Linked DNA regions of Homo sapiens. The protein of the gene in region 1 interacts with the protein of each later gene in a pairwise test. Each region holds a gene or a part of one and is shown in the gene's direction. Other genes may lie near its edges. The genes, in order: YJU2, SETMAR and JADE1.

Region 1 (7,109 bases):
TGGGATTGCAGGCGTGAGCTGCCGCACCTGGCCTTCTCCTTCTACTTACACATGGCAGGCTCCTCTTGTCTGCCATAGGTCATGGCTCCAATCTCACCCCTCCGGGAGGCCTCCATCATCCCCTCACGGTGCCCAGATCTTGCCTTTTGTAGCACTTCAGAATTACTGTATTTCACCAACTCTCAACCCCATACCTTTTCATGCTCTAGCATATCTGAAATCACGCACCTAACGAGGAAAGAGACATCTGGGTCAGTGAAATTCGGTTCATGCCCATGTGTTGTTGGCCTGTCTACTCCTCCCCCTCATTCATTCATTTATTCATTCAACACTCATTTATTGGGCACCTGCTGTGTGCCAGGGTCTGTGCCGAGCGCCAGGAACAAAGTCCCTGGCCTCATGGAGCCCACAGTCTAATGGGAAGTGGAGAATAGTGGTAGTCAGGCAGGTGCACGGGCCCCCGAAGTCAGGCAGGAGAGAGCCCCTGGGGCAGTGGCGCAGGAGGGAGGGCTATAGGTAGCTGGGGTACGGTGACATCAGGCAAAATACTGGTGGCGCTGAGGTCTGAGGATGAAGGGTGTCGCCGGCCATGAGACTGTAGGAGCAGAGGCCTTGAGCTGGGACTGAGCTGGGGGTGTTTGCAGGATCAGACAGGAGGCGGGCGTGCTGGGCTGGGGAGCAGAGCCCGGAGTAGGAGGGGAAGAGGGGGGTGGGGCAGCATTTTTCTGTGTGGCATCTTTCCTCCTGGAGGGTGGGGTGCCCCGTAAGCACAAAGATTGCTTCTGGGAGTGCATGACAGGCAGGCCTCACCTACTCAGGGGGCTTCCCAAGCAGGCGACCCTTGGACTGAGCCCCAGGAAGATATGAATGAGAACACGAAGTTCTCAGGTAGAGGAAATTTGGACACAGGGTGGGGCAGCCTGCCTCTTGAAGGAGGGAGCTCCCCGTTGCTGGAGGCAAGCAAGCAGTGATCTTGCAGGATGCCGCAGGGACAGCCTGCCAGTGGGAGCCAGCGTCCCAAGACAGCTCACATCCCTACATGCTGCCCCGCAGGTGTAAGACGTGCGGAGAATACATCTACAAGGGGAAGAAATTCAATGCTCGGAAGGAGACGGTGCAGAACGAGGTCTACCTGGGCCTGCCCATCTTCCGCTTTTACATCAAGTGCACGCGCTGCCTGGCAGAGATCACCTTCAAGGTAGGTGAGACGGCCGGCCAGGCCGGTCCCTCTCCCCCAGCACACCTCAGATCAGGGCGGGCCCTGGGGTTCCTTAACTCCAATCCTCTCCATCCAGGGAATCTCATTTCAGTTTATCCCCAAGAAACAGACAACAGTTTGGGGGAGATGTTCATGGCAGCATTCTAAATAAAGGCAAAAAGACAGAAGCAACCTAGATAGATAATAATAAGGGATGAGAAGAACAAATTAGCATGCAGGCTGGGCATGGCTCACACCTGTACTCCCAGCACTTTGGGCGGCCAAGGCGGGCAGATCACCTGAGGTCAGAAGTTCAAGACCACCCTAGCCAACATGGCGAAATGCCATGTCTACTAAAAATACAAAAATTACTGGGCATGGTGGCGGACTATAATCCCAGTTACTCGAGAGGCTAAGGCAGGAGAATCACTTGAAGCTGGGAGGCAGAGGTTGCAGTGAGCGAAGATTGCACCGCTATACTCCAGTCTGGGTGACAGAGCAAGACTCCAACTAAAAAAAAAAAAAAAAAAAGCCAGGCACAGTGGCTCATGCCTGTAATTCCAGCAGGTTGGGAGGCCAAGGCAGGAAAGAGAGCCCCTGAGGTCAGGAGTTTGAGACCAGCCTGGCCAACATGGTGAAACCCCGTCTCTACTAAAAATACAAAAGTGAGCCAGGCGTGGTGGCTCATGCCTGTAATCTCAGGTACTTGGGAGACCAAAGCAGGAGAATCGCTTGAACCCGAGAGGGAGAGGTTGCAGTGAGCCAACATTGCGCCATTGCACTCCAGCCTGAGCAACGAAATGAAACTCTGTCTCAAAAAGAAAAAAAAAAGTAGCGTGCAATGGAATATTACACAGCCAATAAAAATTGCAATTTGACTTTTATTTGTTACCTTGAGAATTTAAGGAAAGACTGAAGATAACTTAAAATTTTCTCTTCCTATGCTTAAGTACTCTTTGAATACTTTTTTGCCATAAGCTTTTTTTCTTTGATTAAAAAAACATTTTGGGCTGGGCGCAGTGGCTCACAGCTATAATCAGCACTTTGGGAGGCCAAGGCAAGTGGATCAGTTGAGGTCAGGAGTTCGAGACCAGCCTGGACAACATGATGAAACCCCAACTCTACTAAAAAAAAATACAAAAATAGGCCGGGCGCAGTGGCTCACGCCTCTAATCCCAGTACTTTGGGAGGCTGAGGCAGGCGGATCATGAGGTCAGGAGATCGAGACCATCCTGGCTAACACAGTGAAACCCCGTCTCTACTAAAAAAAAAGCAGAAAAAAATTAGCCAGGCGTGGTGGCGGGTGCCTGTAGTCCCAGCTACTCGGGAGGCTGAGACAAGAGAATGGCGTGAACCCAGGAGGCGGAGCTTGCAGTGAGCTGAGATCGCGCCACTGCACTCCAGCCTGGGCGACAGAGCGAGACTCCGTCTCAAAAATAAATAAATAAATTAATAATAATAATAATATTTTGGCTGGGTGCAGTGGCTCACGCCTGTAATCCCAACACTTTGAGAGGTCAAGGGAGAAGGATCGCTTAAATCCAGGAATTCAAGACCAGCTTGGGCAACATAGTGAGATCCCGTCAGTACAAAAAAATATAAAAATTAGCTGGGCATGATGGCATGCGCCTATAGTCCTAGCTACTTGGGAGGCTGAGGCAGGAGAATCAATTGAGTCTGGGAGGCCAAGGCTGCAGTGAGCCATGATTTCACTGCTATACTCCAGCCTGAGTGACAGAGTGAGACCCTGTCTGCAAAAAAACAAACAAAAACTTTTTTTGAAATACCTGAAGATTTACAGAAAAGTTCCAAAGATAGTACAGATAATTCTCACCTACCCCCTCACCAACTTCCCCGAATATTAGCATCTTATATAACCAGGGTACATCTGTCACAGTAAGATACTAAGGGTGGGGCCAGGCATGGTGGCTTACTCCCAGCGCTTTGAGAAGGCAAGGCAGGAGGATTGCTGGGGACCAGAAGTTCAAGACTAGCCTGGGCAACATAGTGAGACCCTGTCCGTGTCTACACACACACACACACACACACACACACACACACACACAAATTTTAATTAAAAAAAGAAACTAAAGGTGGAATGTTACCATTAACATTGTAGGCTGTGGCTGGGTGCAGTGGCTCATGCCTGTAATCCCGGCACTTTGGAGGCCAAAGCAGGAGGATCGGTTGAGTCCAAGAGTTAGAGACCAGCCTGGGCAACATGGCGAAACCCTGTCTCTACCAAAAAGAAATTTAAAAATTAGCCAGGTGTGATGGTGCATACCTGTAGTCCCAGCTACTCGGCAGGCTAAGGTGAGAGGATTGCTTGAACCCGGGAGGCTGAGGTTGCAGTGAGCCATGATCCTGCCGCTGCACTCCGGCCTGGGCAACAGCACGAGACCCTGTCCCCAAAAAAATAAAAAACATAGTGTTACTATTAGCATTTAGACCAAAGGTAGATTTCAGTTTTTCTGCTAATGTCACTTTTCTGTTCCAGTGTGTAATTTAAGATACCAGGGTGTATTTAGCCTCTCTATTCAATAAACAAAAACAGGGGCATGCTGTATACATATTTGTACATGTGATTTATAATCAAAGAAAAGGTGTTAATAAATACAAAGGGCAGAAATCACAACATGTGCAGAACCTTGGAGATTTTTTTTTTTTTTTGAGACAGGGTCTCACTTTGTAGCCAAGGCTGGAGTACAGTGGTGTGATCTCAGCCTCCCAGGTTCATGTGATTCTCATGCCTCAGCCTCCAGAGTAGCTGGGATTACAGGCATGCACCACCTTGCCCTGCCTAATTTTTTGTATTTTTAGTAGAGACAGGGTTTCTCCATGTTGGCCAGGCTGGTCTTGAATACCTGACCTCCAGTGATCCACCTGCCTCATTGGAGAGTTTGTTTGCAGTCATGTTAAGGGTAGGGAGTGGAGGATGCAGGGAGGCAGTGGGCAGATGAGAAGAGTCTTAAAGTCCATGCCAGGGAGTTGGGCATTTTTGCCCATGGAGATGGGAGGAGCACTAGGAAGAAATCTCACCAGTCAAAGCAATAAGACAAGAAAAAGAGAAGGTAGTAGAACCAGTAAAAATCAGAGAGAAGGGGCCCTGATCTGCTGGTGGTACTTTAGAAGATTCTAGTGCCTGGGGATGTAGGAGCTGATGTCTGTCTATCCTCCCTGCAGACAGACCCTGAAAACACAGACTACACCATGGAGCATGGAGCCACGCGGAATTTCCAGGCTGAGAAGCTCCTGGAGGAGGAGGAGAAGAGGGTGCAGAAGGAGCGGGAGGACGAGGAGCTGAACAACCCCATGAAGGTGAGTCGGGGGCCATGTAGGTGTTCATGGGCGCTGTGTGTGTGGGTGTGTGTGTGTGCCAATGGTTGTGCCCTTCCTGCCTCAGGTCCCCAAGGAAGGAAGATGGGGTGGGGGGCGTGGTTGGTAAAACTTTAAGATGTCCCCAGGAGGCCAGGCATAGTGGCTCATGCCTGTAATCTCAGCACTTTGGGAGGCTGAGGCGGGAGGATCACTTGAGGTCAGGAGTCCTAGACCAGCCTGGCCAATGTGGCGAAACCCTGTTCCTACTAAAAATTTTAAAACTTAACACTGGGCGCAGTGGCTCACACCTGTAATCCCAGCACTTTTGGAGGCCGAAGTGGGTGGGTCACGAGGTCAGGAGTTTGAGACCAGCCTGACCAACATGGTGAAACCCCGTCTCTACTAAAAATACAAAAATTAGCCAGGCATGGTGGCACGCTTCTGGAATTACAGCTACTCAGGAGGCTGAGGCAGGAGAATCGCTTGAACCGGGGAGGCAGATGTTGCAGGAAGCCGAGATGGCGCCACTGCACTCCAGCCTGGGTGACAGAGTGAGATTCTGTCTCCAAAAAAAAAAAAAAAAAATTAGTCAAGCATGGTGGCGCATGCCTGTAATCTCAGCTACTTGGGAGGCTGAGGCAGGAGAATTGCATGAACCCGGGAGGCAGAGGTTGCAGTGAGCCGAGATCAAACCACTGCACTCCAGCCTGGGCAGCAAAGCAAGACTCTGTCTCAAAAAAAATAAATAAATAAAAGAAATTATGTTCACTTCCAATAGGACAATTTTGTATTTTCTCAGAAATATTAAAAGGAGCCATGCATGGTGGCTTGAACCTGTAGTCCCAGCTACTTTAGGGGTTGAGACAGGAGGATCACTTGAGTCTAGGAGTCAAAGACCAGCCTGGGCAACATAGTGAGACTCTGTCTCTATAAAACATTAAAAAATTAGCCAGGTGCTTGCCAGGCGTGGTGGCTCACACCTGTAATCGCAGCACTTTGGGAGGCCAAGGCAGGTGGATCACAAGGTCAGGAGTTCAAGACCAGCCTGGCCAAGAGGGTGAAACCCCGTCTCTACTAAAAATACAAAAAATTAGCCGGGCATGGTGGCAGACACCTGTAATCCCAGCTACTCGGGAGGCTGAGGCAGAGAATTGCTTGAACTCAGGAGGCAGAGGCTGCAGTGAGCTGAGATCATGCCACTGCACTCCAGCCTGGGTGACAGAGCAAGATTCTGTGTCAAAAAAAAAAAAAAAAAAAAAATCAGCCAAGTGCTTTGGGAGGCTGAGGCAGGCGGATCACCTGAGGTCAGGAGTTCAAGACCAGCTTGGCCAACACGGCGAAACCCTGTCTCTACTAAAAATACAAAAATTAACCAGGCGTGGTGGCACGCGCCTATAATCCAAGCTACTCAGGAGGCTGAGGCAGGAGAATTGCTTGAACCCAGGAGGCGGAGGTTGCAGTGAGCCAAGATCGCGCCATTGCACTTCAGCCTGGGCAACAAGAGTAAAACTCTGTCTCAACAACAACAACAAAAATTAGGCAGGTGTACTGGTGTGCACCTGTGGTCCCACCTACTAGGGAGGCTGAGGCGGGAGGATCACTTGAGCCCAGGAAGTTGAGGCTGCAGTTAGCTATGATCACATCACTGCACTCCAGCCTGGAAGACAGCAAGACTGTCGCAAAAAAAAAAAAATATATATATATATATATATATATATGTACACACACATATACATATATATACATACACATATATATATAAAACAGATTTTTAAATGACTGTGTTCCCTGCTGTCCCCTCCTGCTTCCATATTTCCCATCCATTCTTATCTATTCCTGGACCCACCCACCCCTGCCAAATGTGAGTTTTCTGAGCAAGCCACATCAGACCAGATACAACATTTTCCATGGCCATGCAGAGCAACAGGGAGGGAAATGAGCCTTGGCAAGGGTTTGGTGTGTGCCTGGGCCTGTCGCACTGCTGTCTGTGTGTGAATTTAGTTACCTCCACACTGACAGCAAGGGGCTCTTACCCTGGTGTTAGTCAGCTATTGCTACATAACAGGTTATCCCAAAACTTAGTGACTGAAAACAACAAACATTTATTATCCCACAGTTTTTGAGAGTCAGGCATCCAGAAGCAGCTGAGCTGGATGGTTGTGGCTTGGGGGCTCCCATGAGGTTGCAGTCAAGGTGTTGGCCAGGGCAGTATCATCTGAAGGCTGGACTGGGGCTGGAGGAGCCACTCGCAAACTGGCTCCCTCTACTGGCTGTTGGCTGTCAGCCTCAGTTCCTCGCTGTGTGGGGAGCTGCTTGAGCAACCTCACAACATGGCAGCTGCGTACCCCAGAGCATGTGACCCAAGAGTGAGAGCAAGGAGGAAGGCCTGTGCTTTTACATCCTAGTCTCAGAAGTTACGTGCCATTATTTCTGTCATATTCCATTAGAGCAAGTAGCTTGTCCAGCCCCTGCTCAAGGGGAGGGGAGTCACCTCCACCCCTTAAATGGAGGAGCATCAGAGAGTTTGTGGACATACTTTTAAACTGTCAGAATTGCCATTTTTCCAAAGGGTAAATACAACAAGGTCACAGCA
Region 2 (7,604 bases), on another chromosome or scaffold:
ACCTTATCTCCAGCCAATCTGAAATTACTCTTTCCTATCCACATCTTTCTTTTTATTACTTTGCTTCTCCTGTTCCTTCCACCTGGAATGCCTAAATCCTATCCATCATTCATGATCTCCCCTGCTAAAAGTAATCTTTACCAGTTCTAAAGATCCATAGCACTTTACCTAAACCTTCTTATGTTTCTTAATTATACTATAAGCAGCTAATTGTATCATATACATGACTATCTCTTCTTTTAAGGAAGGATAGGTACACAACTATATCTGATAAAATATTTACTAGGCAGCTACCTTAAAATCTATAGCTTCTGAGAGGCAAGGCTTCTAATTCAGGATTCCCCCACACCCTATTAATGGGATATATTCTCCTTGCATTTGAGCCACCCTCTGGGAGAACAAACAGCTCCCAGGCAGCTCTGTGACCTGCTGTGTGGACTGCAAGCACTATTCCCACAGAAGGGGTACACCTGAGGCCTCTCTGCTGGTAGGCTTTGGCTCTTGTCCTATAATCTCAAGTGAAGCTAATGCCAAGTGTGGCCAGTGACAGTCCTGTGAACCCGAATGTTTAGTTGAACCTGAAATGACCCTGTGGTAGATGTTTCAAGTACCATATTATGGGTATTAATGAATTTATACATATCAAATGTTTAAACAATATCTGGGCCAGATGTCGTCGCTTATGCCTGTAATCTCAGCACTTTGGGAGGTGGAGATGGGTGGATCACTTGAGGTCAGGAGTTTGAGACCAGTATGGTCAATTCGGTGAAACCCCAGCTCTACTAAAAATACAAAAAAGTAGCTGGGTGTGGTGGCACACACCTGTAATCCCAGCTCCTCAAGAGGCTGAGGCAGGAAGACTGCTTGAACCCAAGAGGTGGAGGTTGCAGTGAGCCAGGATGGCGCCACTGCACTCCAGCCTGGGTGACAGAGTGAGACTCCACCTCAAAAAATAAAAAATAAAAAAACAGTATCTGGTACATAATAAGTCAATAAATGTTAGCTATTATTTCCCATGGTCAGAAATTTGCAGAGTAGGAATATAAATTTAGTCATGGCTGATTTCAGATACTGTGCCCCTAACTCTTACATTTTGATTCTTTTCTACATAGAATCAATTCCCTATTGATATAATTTGGATATTTGTCCTCATCCAAGCCTCATGTTGAAATCTAATCCCCAGTGTTGGAGGTGGGGCATAGTAGGAGAAGACTGGATCATGGGGGCGGGTTTCTCATTAAACCCATGGGTGCTAAAGCACCATCCCCTCGGTGCTGTCATCACAACAGTGAGTTAATTCTCACAAGATCCGGTCATTTAAAAGTGTGTGTGGCACCTGCCCCAACCCCCACTCTCTCTCACTGCTCCTGCTTTGACCATGTGAGATGCCTGCTTCCTCTTCACCTTCTACTATGACTCAAAGCTTCCTGAGGCCTGCCCAGGAACCGAACAAATGCCAGCACCATACTACCTGTACAGCCTGCAGAGCCATGAGCCAATTAAACCTCTTTTCTTTATAAATTACCTAGCCTCAAGTATTTCTTTACAGCAACACAAGAAAGTTTTTATATCAGATGTGTACTCAAAAAAGTTTTTATATCAGATGTGTACTGCAGTGCAAAATTATGTGATTTTATACATGCTCATGAATAGCACATTTATAAGGCTGATCTTTAATTTCTGTTCTCAAACCTATTAATGCCAGGTATAACTGTTATTATAATTTTATGAAAAAAGGATGATGAACTATGAGTGCAAAGAGTTTCTCCCTTCTGGGATAACTAAGTAGAACATTCTGTAAAGACTTGGAGAAAAAAAAGCAAGTCACTAAAAAATGTTTTGCCCTTGAAGTGGGTGTGAGTGAGAAAAGTATAAAAGACTAGGGAAAGAAAACAGATCATGATATCCCATTGCTTCACTATCCTTTAGTTCCCACCCCACTTTAAAGACACCAAAACTGGAACTCAGAGTAAGCTTGACCTGGAGCTCTAATCAGTAGAAAACAAACATACAGAGACACACACACACACACACTCTAGCTCTCCTTCTCTTTTGGCCCTACATCAAAAGACTAGCATATAAATGTACCAAAATCATTTAAGTTAAAACAAAATGTTTCTCTATCTATCTATCTCCCCACCCTCCACCAATATATATATATATAATTTTTATGAGTTCAATAAGATGGTTTTGCCTGTGCTTACATTAAATAGTTGCAGGGAACATAAGAAATGGCTTATAAAGTAGGAGAACTAATGTAAAGAGGGTAACCAATGCTAAGGGAAACAGGGTAAAGAAAGATACAGAGAAGGGACTACTTGAGCTGAGCAGACAGACAGTCCTGGGTAAAGGCACTGGAGATACAAGAACAATGTGGACAAAGGCCCAGAGGCCCAAGTAGAATGGCTTTTTGAGGGAATGTCAACAGAACAAGGGGTTCCAACAGAGAACAGCAGCAAAAGAGACCAAGGAAATAGGTAAAGTCTGGGTCCTCAAAGGCTCATAAGACAGAATATAGAAGGTAAACTTTGAGAGAAAATGGAGCAAATAAGAATCTAAGCAGCAAAATATAATAACTGGACAAGGATCTTCAAAGGTCATTGTAGCAGCGGCAGTAAGGGTGATTTGGGGATATGGAGAATGACAGACTTAAAGCAAAGAACTTCCAAAGTCCAAGCAAGAAATGAGAGAGCCTAGGACTAAGTGAGAAGAGGCAAAAATGAGAACATGAAGGCAGAATCAACAAGACTTACCCACCACGTCCTTAGCTATATGAGTCTAGTGAAGTGAAGGAATACAGAGTAACTGGTTTGTTGCTTTAGTGGCTCTGTAGATCACAAATTATTTTCCCAGTTAACTTTAAAGAAGAAAAAGCAAGACTGGCAGAAGAAGTCAATTCAGATTATTTTGAGTTTGAGGAGCCTGTAGGACAGAAAACAGAAATGCTCAATCATTAGCTGAATATGCGTAACTGGATTTGAGGAGAAACGTCTGATCTGGGTTGGAGACTGGTGACCTAATCCTTTATATTTGAAGCCATGGGAGTGGATGTTATTAATGAGAAAGTTCAGGGAAGGGGAGCAAAGAAAAAGGTCAAGGGCAGAACCCTGAATCACACCCACTTTTCAGAAACAGTCAGGCAGGAAAACAACAAGAGGATACTAACAAGGAAAGGTCTGCAAGATGGAAACACATTTAGGCCAATGGGACCTCAGAAGCTGCAAGGTCAGAAGGGTTTGTGAACCCAAAATTATCTGAGACAGGTCTCAATTTAGAAAGTTTATTTTCCCAAGCTTAAGAATGCGCCCCCAACATAGCCTCAGGCAGTCCTGATGACATGTGCCCAAGGTGGTTGGGATACAGCTTACTCTCACACATTTTAGGGAGACATAATACATCAATCAATACATGTAAGATTGGTTGGATCTGGAAAGGCAGACAACGAGAAGCGGGTGAGGGGTGGCTTCCAGGTCATAGGTAGATTTAAAGATTTTCTGATTGGCAACTGGTTATTATCTAAAGACCTAAAATCAATAGAAACGAATGTCTGGGTTGCAATAAGAGGTTGTGGATACCAAATTTGATCGTGGAGATGAAGCCTCCAAGAGGTAAATTTCAGAGAACAGATTGTAAATGTTTCTTATCAGACTTAAGGTGTGTGTTGATGTTGATGCTGGCTGGCTTTTCCTGAATTCCAAAAGGAAGAAGGGCATAATGAGGCATGTTGGACCCCCCTTCCCATCATGGCCTGAACCACTTTCTCAGGTTAACCTTGGCAGAGAGGAGGGGTCCCTTCAGATGGTTTGGAGGATTGGAATTTTATTTTTGGTTTACAGTTTCAAGGAGAAGCAGGACAATCATGTCAGAGAGCTTCAGTGAGGTTGAAAATGCTCCACCGGATTCAGCAGTCTTGAGGCTATCAGAATCCTTTGGCAGGGCAGGGGTTTGGAGGGGTGAGGGTAGAGGGATGGAGAGGAGGGAAAAGGACAGGCAAAGGGGCACGGATACCTCCATCAGGGAGTGAGCATGCCCCCACACAAATTCCTTAAGGCACCCTGTGAGGCTATCGCCTTGGCACAAACCCTATCACATGTCAGTCAACTTCCCGGCAAGCCGCAGACCTTTAGAAACCTTGGTGTGCGTTTCCCCGCTCGGTTTAGAACGCACCCCTGCCTCCACTCCACAAACGTGCAGTGAGCCCTCAAAAACCTGGACAAATGACCTCACCTCGAAAGCCCCCTCTCTGATGCTCCCAGGAAAAACTAAAGCACCTCACTTTGTTTCGTCCGTACCTTACATGGTTTTGTAATTATCTGTGGTGCCTCTGGCTGAAATCAAAACGGGAGCCAGACCCAAAAAGTCAAGGAAGGGAAGCGCCTTCCAGGCCACTCCTGAGAAGAAACGAACTACAATTCCCATGAGGCGGTGGGGCCACGGGACCACAAGTCCCAGCATCCACCGCGCGGCCCAGGACTGTCAGGGTAGTGGGCGTTGCGTGAGGCGGGTAAATGTTCGCGGAAGCGGCAAAGACGACACGGCCTTGTGGGATGGCGGAGTTTAAGGAGAAGCCTGAGGCCCCGACTGAGCAGCTGGATGTCGCGTGCGGCCAGGAAAACTTGCCGGTGGGCGCGTGGCCCCCGGGGGCCGCGCCGGCGCCCTTCCAGGTAGGGGCGGGGCCAGGCGGCGCGGGAGGCGGGCGCGCGGCTCCCCCACGTGGTCTCCTCAAGCCGCCTCGCTGGGACGGCCTCCCAGTCGCGACCTTTTGTCTTCTCTTACAGCGCACCCGTTGGTGCGCGGGAATAGGTGTGCATGCCCCGGCCTGGGCCTTTTTCTGTTGACCCACGGCATCACCTTAGCAAGGGTGTTGTCCTTTTCAGTCCATTCCCTGAAGCGCAGAACCGGAGGCCTTGTGAGAACCTGGCTTTTTGTCCAGTCCTGTCCTCAGAACTCAAGGAGGCATCACGGGGGGAGTCATTTACCTCCCTGGTCTCAGGTGTCTCTCACAGGTAGGATAAGCCGTGGGGCCTATTAATGGATCGCAGCCGGTGTCGTGCATAAAAACAGCCCCTCGAGTCAGCCTTAGCTGTGGTCTCCCTCACGCTGTGGGCTCTTGGGCGAGTGTAAATTAGCTGTGGCTCAGCCTTAGAGTCTTCCAGCGTACAGTGGAACAGTACCTCTCTTCCGGAGTGCTTTGAAAATGGCAAGGAAAATACACTTTCCGGTTTGCTGTAAGAACTCAGTAAATGTTTGCTTCTATTAACTACCTCAAAGCCCTTTCTACTCTCCTTTTTCTTTTTGAGACTGAGTCTCGCTCTGTCGCCCAGGCTGGAGTGCACTGGCGCGATCTCGGCCCACCGCAACCTCCACCTCCCGGGTTCAAGCGATTCTCCTGCCTCAGCCTCCCGAGTAGCTGGGATTACAGGCATGGGCCACCACGCCCGGCTAATTTTTGTATTTTTAGTAGAGACAGGGTTTCTCCATGTTGGTCAGGCTGGTCTCGAACTCCCAACCTCAGGTGATCCGCCCGCCTCGGCCTCCCAAAATGCTGGGATTACAGGCATGAGCCACGCTCCCAGCCTCTACTGACTTTCTTATCCCTCCGACCTTGGCCTGAGCGTTACCCAAGGAATAAGGAATGACCAAAGATTTTGAAGTGGAAAGAGCGCTGGACGTGGAAGTTGGAGAGTATGGTTCGGAGCTTAGACATCTTAGCTACTTCCCAGAGCCTGAGTTTCTTCATCTGCAAAATGAAAATAATAATTTAAAAATGCATAGCCCCTTTAACATCCATTATCAACAATGAACCCTATCTGCCCTTTCTTTTTCCTAGGGGTTTTTGTGAGGATCAGATAAGATAAGAGATTCAATAGCAGCTTTCAAAGATGTCAAGGAAAAGAATCAAACTCTAAAATATTTGAAGAGATTTATTCTGAGCCAAATATGAGTGACCATGGCCTGTGACACAGCCCTCAGGAGATGCTGAGAACATGTGTCCCAGGTGGTTAGGGCACAGCCTGGTTTTATACATGTTTGGGAGAGAGGAGACGTCAATCAAATACATTTAACATGTACATGGGTTTGGTTCAGAAGGCGGGGCAACTCAAAGTGGTGGGGGGGGCTTCCAGACTATAGGTAGATTTTAATTTTTCTGGTTAACAATTTTTCTGGTTAACAATTGGTTGAGTTTGTCTGAAGACCTGGGATCAATAGAAATGTTTAGGTTAAGATAAAGGGTTTTTTTTTGAGACGGAGCTTGACTCCATCACCCAGGCTAGAGTGTGGTGGTGCGATCAGCTCACTGCAACCTCCGCCTCCCAGGTTCAAGCGATTCTTCCACCTCAGCTTCCCGAGTAGCTGGAATTACAGGCGCCTACAACCACGCCCAGCTGATTTTTGTATTTTTAGTAGAGACAGGGTTTTACCATGTTGCCCAGGCTGGTCTCAAACTCCTGACCTCAAGTGATCCACCCACCTGGGCCTCCCAAAGTGCTGGGATTACAGACGTGAGCCACCGCACCCGGCCATGTAGAGACCCAAGTTTTAATTGTGGGGAGGAGACTCCCAGCTGACTTCAGAGGGAGCAGGTTGTAAAATGTTTCTTATCTAACTTAAAAAGGTGCCTCGGTCTTAGTTGATTATCTCCTTGTTGTGGAAAGAAAGAAAAAGAGGGGGAAAGGGGATTCTCTATAGAATGTGGATTTTTCCCACAAGAGACAACCCTCCAGGGCAATTTCAAGATATGGCAAGGAAATATATTTGGGGTTAAAATATTTTGATTTCTTCCCTTATTTGTTATTTGATGTTATGCCAGAGTCAGGTAGAAAGCAGACCATGCTATATAGGGTTAAAATTAAAACTCCTCTGATGAGACTTTATGGTTTGTAAGGCATGACTCCCCAGGTGCCTTGGGTAGGAATTTGGGCAAGATAAGAAAAAATCAGAGTTTAGTCCTCAAAGAGTAGAATAAGATATTAATGTCAGAAATTATTATTGTTCCCCAGACTACCTTTGGCAATTTATAGTTAATAATACAGTTAGCTGGCCCAATATTAAACAGTGGTCCCTGAAAACTTAGGACTAAGCATTGCTGAGTTCCTGGTCAAAAACACTGATTTAAAAAACCACTGTTCTAGTCCATTCTTAATTCAACAAATATTTATTGAGAGCTAAATATATGCAAGGTGGTGGGTTGGGCTGCAAAGAATACAACAAACAGAAAAACGCACTCTACCCTCAAGGTGTTTACAACTGTCACGATTAGCTTCAATATTCCTGCCGTGCGTGTGTGTGTGCGTTTGAGACTATTCTATAAATCTGTTTCCAATCTTGAGTCATATTTTTCTTTGCCATATCCAAGAACAATCTGTAAAACTATGTGCCCGACGTATTTTTTTAATTAACTCACTTTAAGCGTTAAATTATTTAAAAATAAATTATATAAGTATCTCCCTTAGAATCATTGTAATCATTAATGTCCATAAAATCATGAGGTTTTCTATTTCTCAAAGTGTATATTAAAATAAATACGTCTATTTTTAAAAGGGGAGAAAGGAGTGACAAGAGGAAGCTTTGTGATTGATTGTTACATCTACAGTTGGTGGGCA
Region 3 (7,109 bases), on another chromosome or scaffold:
CCGTTGATCTTAAAGTTTGTTTTAGAATCAAGACCCCTTAAGTGCATTTGAGCCCTATATTCTGTGATCATAAGCCCCCAAAAGTAGGTAGTATAAGGATTTCAGAGAAGCAGAGCTGCTGAGTGTGGATCAGGCAGAATTAGGGACCCATGGAACAGGTAGGTCTTAGACTGGACTTCATTGGAAGATAGTCAGCCTCTCTCCTGCCTTGGACTGCCCTTTAAAGTTCTAGCTGCACCATTCTTGGTGCTTGCGTTGTGCAATCATAGTTGATTCACTCTTGTTTTTGTGCATTTGTGGCTTTTTGTCACTCCATCTAGATTATTATGGTGCACAGAGAACAAAGAAGTTGTTATAACCTGTTGTGTTGAAATCCAAATTCTGGTTTATCTAACCAATTATGTGCGACTAGAGGGAGCTCGGTCATCTGAAGAAATAAAAAAAGGTTTAGGGAGGTTTAAATAATGTTCTTGAAGTGTTACATAGTTTGAATGCAATAACTTGTTGATATCCTAGATATTTTCTTCCCAAGATTAAGTATTTTCCAGGTGAATCAAGTGTATATCATTAGCTGGAACTTGCAGTTTAATTGTTAAGATTTTAAAAATAAATTTTCTAAGTAGGGTGTCATATGTAAAAGTAGGTCGATTCAGATTCCCTAAGGTGAGCTCTCTCTTCATGATTCCTACCTGAATACAAATAAATGAGATCTGTTTAACTGCCTTGGAAGACTGTCTGGTGCAGATCACCGAGCCTACAGCAGCAAATGCTGAGCTGGGATCACTAATACAAGTTGTGCCTGTGGAGTTGTGCCATTGGAGGGCTTTCTGCAACTCTTAGGTCATTATGTAATGAGTGATTCCCTGTAAAAATAAGCCGTAAAGAGCATTTTCATCTGGTTTCATTTGAGTTATTTCTCATGGATATTGCAGGCAGGTTTTTGCATTTCATGGCTGAGGTTTTTACTGGGTGAGCGAATGATATTCTTAATAAGTCTGGGAGTTATTTTGTGGTAACAGAGCTGTAATGTAGATCTGCATTCAGAAGTCCTACTATTTCAGAAAAGGAAAACAAATCTTCCTTTCATTCTGATGTAAGAACCATAGGTATGATCAGTTGAAAACATTTATCTTCCTGTAGGATTCTGTTGAGTAATGCAGTTGAAACCCTTTAGGGTGCTTTTTTTCTTTTTCCAGTCCTAGGCTTCAGTCGTGTTCTTATTCATGCCTAAAGGCTGTCTCCTGCCTGAAGTAGAGCAGATGGTCATGATTTATATGTCATTTAGGGTCCATGGTTTAAACTCTGTGATTCTGAGAGTGGGTAGGGTCATTTGCTGAGAGTGTCCTCAGTGGCAACAGTGCTTATGGGGGGTGGGAGGGTCATGAGTTGGAGGCTCTTTAGAGACATGGATTACAGTCAAGGAGATAGAAATCAGAGTTCAGAAAATGTTAGCCTCTTCTTACCATTCTCTTTTCCTGTGGCAGGTGATTGAGTAAAAGAAATATATGCAGTGTGATGTGAAGGTTGATTCTAATGATTGATTCTTGAGAAAGCAGCATTTCCAAACCAGCAGGTTGTAAAACACCTCCTGTGGTCATGACAGCTCTGTGTTCTGAGTCGCTAGCTATGTTTCATTTGCTTGCAGTGTCTGTGTCTGGTGAGCACTAGGTTCTCATATGGCCTCCTGTCTCATAACCTGGGGGCTGAACCTTGTTTTCTTGGTGGCTCATATCTTATGGGAGACAGAAAACATGAGAACTGCTCTTTCTAGATGATCTTGAGGCTGTTGTAGAATCATGGTCTTTATGACAAACACTAATGTGTTATGAATTCACCTGCTAGGGGTAACAACTCATTAGTGGGTTGTGAGATGAATTCAGTGGGTCATGACCAGTATTAAAAACAAGTAAAGTATAATAGGAAATGTCAGAGTACATTATCAAATGATGAGGGTTAATATTATTTCGTGAAATGTGAACTCTTACTAGGTCATGCTGTGGAATTTAGTCACTGTGATTTGCATCAAAAAATACGAAAAACATCAATTTAACTTACTTCAAGTTGAATGACAATTCAGTTGAATCCCACAAATGTATTTTGCACATAATAATAATGAACATTTTTGGAACGCTTACTATGTGTCAAGAATTATTTCACACATTTCCTTTATTCATTCACATGTTTACATGTACTTGTCCTCGTAATAGCCCTGTGAGGGTACAGACACATAGAGAAACTTACAAGCCCCGAGCCCTGCTTTTTGGGTCCTCTCAGTCTCGTACGGGAGGCAGAAGACTGGACCGTGGAGGAGCGCGGCGCAGGTGCTGCTCTGTAACCAGGTAGAGGGAGCAGAGGCAGCCATCAGCCACCTGATGAGTTCTGCATGGAGTCCGCTCTGAAAATCAGATCAGTTATTTTGTTTGGAGGAGGTCTAGTTTTATGAAAAATTATGTGAGCTTCAGCTGTTTTAGAAAATGTGGCATATTGAGTCTGCAGATTGAATGGAGATTCTCAAGGCAGGTCATCTCTTCACTATAAAAACCAAATTTGTACAAACTTGGTGGTGTAAGTGTTGTGTTGTTGGGTGGGGAGTTCACATCAATTGGGCCACACTAAGGGTGTAGAATTTTATTCTTTTGGATTTGCTTCTGCTGTAATTTTTCTTTATTTGTGGTTTTATGTTTATAGGTGTGCCTTCTTCCTGCTCCTCCTCCTCACTGGAAAACATGCTTTTGTTTAACAGTCCTTCTGTTGGCCCTGATGCTCCCAAGATAGAGGACTTGAAGTGGCATTCTGCATTCTTCAGAAAACAAATGGGTACTTCCTTGGTTCATTCGCTGAAAAAGCCCCATAAGCGAGATCCTTTGCAGAATAGCCCTGGAAGTGAAGGCAAAACCCTGCTGAAGCAGCCAGACCTGTGTGGTAGAAGGGAGGGGATGGTGGTCCCAGAGAGCTTTTTGGGTTTAGAAAAGACCTTTGCAGAAGCACGTCTCATATCAGCACAACAGAAAAATGGTGTGGTGATGCCAGACCATGGGAAAAGAAGAGACAATCGTTTTCATTGTGATCTCATTAAAGGAGACTTAAAGGACAAATCTTTTAAACAGAGTCACAAGCCTCTCAGGTCCACAGATGTGTCCCAGAGGCATCTGGACAACACAAGAGCTGCCACCTCCCCTGGAGTGGGGCAGTCAGCACCTGGCACAAGGAAGGAGATAGTGCCCAAGTGCAATGGCTCCCTAATCAAAGTAAACTATAATCAGACTGCAGTCAAAGTGCCTACAACACCTGCCAGCCCAGTGAAAAACTGGGGAGGATTCCGGATTCCAAAGAAGGGGGAACGGCAGCAGCAGGGAGAGGCCCACGATGGGGCCTGCCACCAGCACTCAGACTACCCATATTTGGGCTTAGGCCGAGTTCCAGCCAAGGAAAGGGCAAAAAGCAAATTAAAATCCGACAATGAGAATGACGGGTATGTCCCCGATGTGGAAATGAGTGACTCAGAGAGTGAGGCATCAGAAAAGAAATGTATACACACCAGCAGCACTATCAGCAGAAGGACAGACATTATCAGGAGAAGCATCTTGGCTTCTTGATGCAACAGAGATGATGCGGAAGCCCTTTGGGCTCGTCATTGGGTTTGCTAGAGGAGAGCTCTGATGTGGGGGAGAAGCAGAAACCCATTAATCCTGAGCTACACAAACACATTTACTTGCAATTCAGATTAATTTTTTTCCAGAGTCATTTTTAAATCATTTTTGTGAGAAGTTTGTGTTATTTGCAACTTGTTGAGGAAACAGAAGAGTAGATTGTAACCATAAGACACTGCTAAGACTAGAACCCGAACTGAACACTAAAATAAAAATGAAATGTTTTAAAGAAGGCAAGGCTTAAATAAGCCTCATGAATTTTTATAGCCCTCTGCATTCTTCCCAAAGCACAAACTCATGGTTACCTGAATATAGGGAACCAGATATGGTTCTTGAGAAACCCTCATGGTACCATTCACAGCCCATAAAGTTTATTTTCTAGGACTGTGGTAGATCTTGAAATCATATTTATATTTGGCCCTCAAGGCTATTTTTGTTGCATTATAGCATATAGGCAGCAGCTCTGAAGCTTCAGTAACACTAAGAAATTTATGTGTAAATATAGCAGTCAGGGAAGAGAATTTTAAAAAAGGTCATTATTGAAGAAGCTGAGGGGACAGGGTAGAGCTGCTGCAATATGGAGATTTAGGGTAATATGGCAAGGTCCTGCTGCTTGAAGCCTGTGAGTGGGTTGTGGATATGGGACTGGTGGAGAGTGAGACTGTTAGGAAAGTTGTATCTATGAATAAGGGCAGTTGAAGTAGAATTTTTACCAGTCCACTTGACCTTCTTCTTCCCTAACCACTGGCTCTTGAGCCAGCTTGGGATTTCCCTGGCCATTGCCAATACCTGGCCATCTGGCTTCCAATAGTACAGTGGCTACTCAAGTTCAAGCGAAGAACTTCCAGACTCTGGTGACTGTTACTTCCCAGAGCCAACCACTAGTGCATATGTTAGGGAATCTGGGCTTCCAACATGAATGGATTCCTTAAGAAAAAGGAAAAAAAAAAAAAAAAGAAAAAAAGAAAAAAAAAAGAAAAAAGAAAAAAAGAGAAAAAAGCGAAATAGGTTATATTTTAAAAACAATAGAAAGGCAATAAGTTGCGATAAGCTCTTACTATTGACCAAGGTTATACAGGAAAGAGACTGAAGTGTACCCTTGAATAGGTTTTCTGTAGTCAGAGTTCTAAACTCTAATTTGTAACTTGGACTTTCTAATTGCAAATGGCAATAACTATTAAGTTATCAGCAATAATAAATTTAGCATTAAATTTGAGTACAATGTTTTGTTTTTGCACTCCCCATAGTGCGTATGTATTAAGACAGTGGATAGTGTTTAGGTCCTGTTAATTTTCTTTGGAATTCAATGTGGTTGTGAATCAAACTTAAGGAAGGAACGTTTAAATAGCAATGAGATACAGAATTATGGGCCTTTGGAACAAGCCCGACTTCCCCTAAATTCTCCTTAGTTTGTTAATACCAGTATTCAGATTCCTGATTCATTTATACATCTGTTTCCATATGGCAGGGACATTATGATACTTAATGAATAATGCTTTGAGGAGTTCTGCAGTTAACTTTCAAGTCTTCCAGATGATTGTCAACAACAAAAAAGGCTTATTGAATCCCATCTTGCTATGCAAGTTTTATCAGATGATCAAATAGTAGATCTGATACATCCCCATTGTATGTACGACATTTTCAAACCAAGTCTTAACTTTTCAAGGACATTTTAGTAGCTAATTCAGGGGAGGGGGAAGAATGATGCAGGTTTTTAGATTGACTGACTATTTTTGAGTTATGGGGCTCATTTTGAAAGACTGCTGTCCAGATCAGCTTGTTGCTGCAGATAATAGAAGGTTCTTATGAATCCAAGTTGTATATTCACTTGTAGGATAATTTAAAAATTAGATTTTTTTTGCATATGAGCAAAAACCTTTTGCTGGATACAGGAGAAGGTTGGACTTTATCTACAGTTATCTTTTGATTACAGCAACAGCTCTGGGTGAGAGTAGAATTTATAGAGGGATAATTTGTCAAGCCATAGAAAGAAAATCTAAATTAATCTAGTAAGTGTATGACCTCTCACCATTTTAAGAGGTATCAGATTCATTTGCACTATTAGGAATGCTAGTTTTGTGCAAAAATAATGCCTTACCTGTTTTTTCCCCACATTTAGGTTGAAAAGCTTTCAAATGTTCCAAGTTATGCTGAACCAAAAAAAACAAAACAAAAACAAAACAAAAAATATTAAAAAAAACCCACACAAAAACAAAACACACAAAAATAAAAAGCCCACACTTTTTATTCCTGCTTCGAAATGCAAATGGATAGAGCACGGTTTCTCTGACAGTATAATGATAGCTTTGTGAGTTAGTTTCATGTCATGCTGGGAACTCTCTATGAGGTGGCCATAAGCAGCAACCAGCCCAAACACCCACTTGCGTTCTATTAGTATGGAACCATTTGCATTTGTTTTTTTTAAGCTTTATCTTTCCTTGTGCATCCTGACCAAGAAATATCTTTGATTATGATTAATGTATTATGTCAAAATGTAGGCTAGTTAAACTTTTGTAAAGTTGCCTGGAATGTCATTTGTTAGGTTATAAACACAAGATCTAAATGAAGGGTTTTATGTGTTGTGTACAAATCTTATTTTGAAATGGACAAACTTGTCATTACATTTGTAACCTTGTACAGAGGATTTTTCACTATGTGCCTAGCTTGGTGTCCATTCAGCTAAAATTGAAAAAAAAAAAAAGGTGCATGAAGAGTTAAAAATCAAATTAAAGTATATGTAGAGATGACTATTTTATATTACATGACCCAATCCTGTATTTATTTCTACCCCCTTTTTGAAAGTATTTATAAAACTAGTTGAGGACAGCTGTATTTTTTTGTTGAACTATTTAGTAGAATTGTGCCTTTTTGTCTGTATGTGAATAAATGCTGTACATTTTGCAATACATTTTAAGTGTCTTTTGAAATCTGCTTTTGCTAAATATTTAAAGGTATATATGACTTAGCAGTCCTGAATCAGTTGTTTACTGTCTTCCACTTTAAATCAGGAATGAGAACTGTAGAGAACATATCAAATTTGTGCAGAGCACAGATTCACTGGGCTGCTTTCTGGCTCAACTCTGATGGCGAGACTGAAAAATAACGGTTTGAGTTTAGTCTTCCCCACCTGGAGTTCTTTCCAGAATACAGTTTTGGATCTGAAAACAGAATCGTTGAAACAACGTAGACTTCAGGGTCAGAGAGAACTGTATTTAAAGGCTAAACTATAGTTTACCAGGCACATGACATTGGCCAAGTCACTTAACCGTTTTAAGCCTCAGTTTTCCCAGAAAGAGGATAACATCTTAGTAACTTAGATATTGAAGTAGTTGTGATTATTTAAAGCAAGTCCATTGAGCACCTTACAGAGAGCATATATTAGGCATTTAGTAAGTGGTAGGCTATTATTTTTATTAGGAACAAGACACTGATGTTTACAATATTTTAACTAATGAGCTT

What was found.
Region 2: the proteins of YJU2 (region 1) and SETMAR interact in binary tests that used the Homo sapiens proteins (3 or more experiments, as listed by UniProt).
Region 3: the proteins of YJU2 (region 1) and JADE1 interact in a two-hybrid assay, tested with the Homo sapiens proteins (2 studies listed by BioGRID and IntAct).

What each region holds. Positions count from the first base shown.
Region 1 is NC_000019.10:4,249,974-4,257,082, forward strand, and holds part of YJU2 (splicing factor YJU2), read left to right. Parts: intron 1-1,053; coding exon 1,054-1,198; intron 1,199-4,381; coding exon 4,382-4,516; intron 4,517-7,109.
Region 2 is NC_000003.12:4,298,863-4,306,466, forward strand, and holds the start of SETMAR (histone-lysine N-methyltransferase SETMAR), read left to right. Parts: upstream 1-4,506; 5' UTR 4,507-4,508; coding exon 4,509-4,664; exon of another isoform or gene 4,665-4,809; coding exon of another isoform or gene 4,810-5,006; exon of another isoform or gene 5,007-5,617; coding exon of another isoform or gene 5,618-5,740; intron 5,741-7,604. UniProt on the Homo sapiens protein: Protein derived from the fusion of a methylase with the transposase of an Hsmar1 transposon that plays a role in DNA double-strand break repair, stalled replication fork restart and DNA integration.
Region 3 is NC_000004.12:128,868,667-128,875,775, forward strand, and holds the end of JADE1 (protein Jade-1), read left to right. Parts: intron 1-2,688; coding exon 2,689-3,596; 3' UTR 3,597-6,558; downstream 6,559-7,109.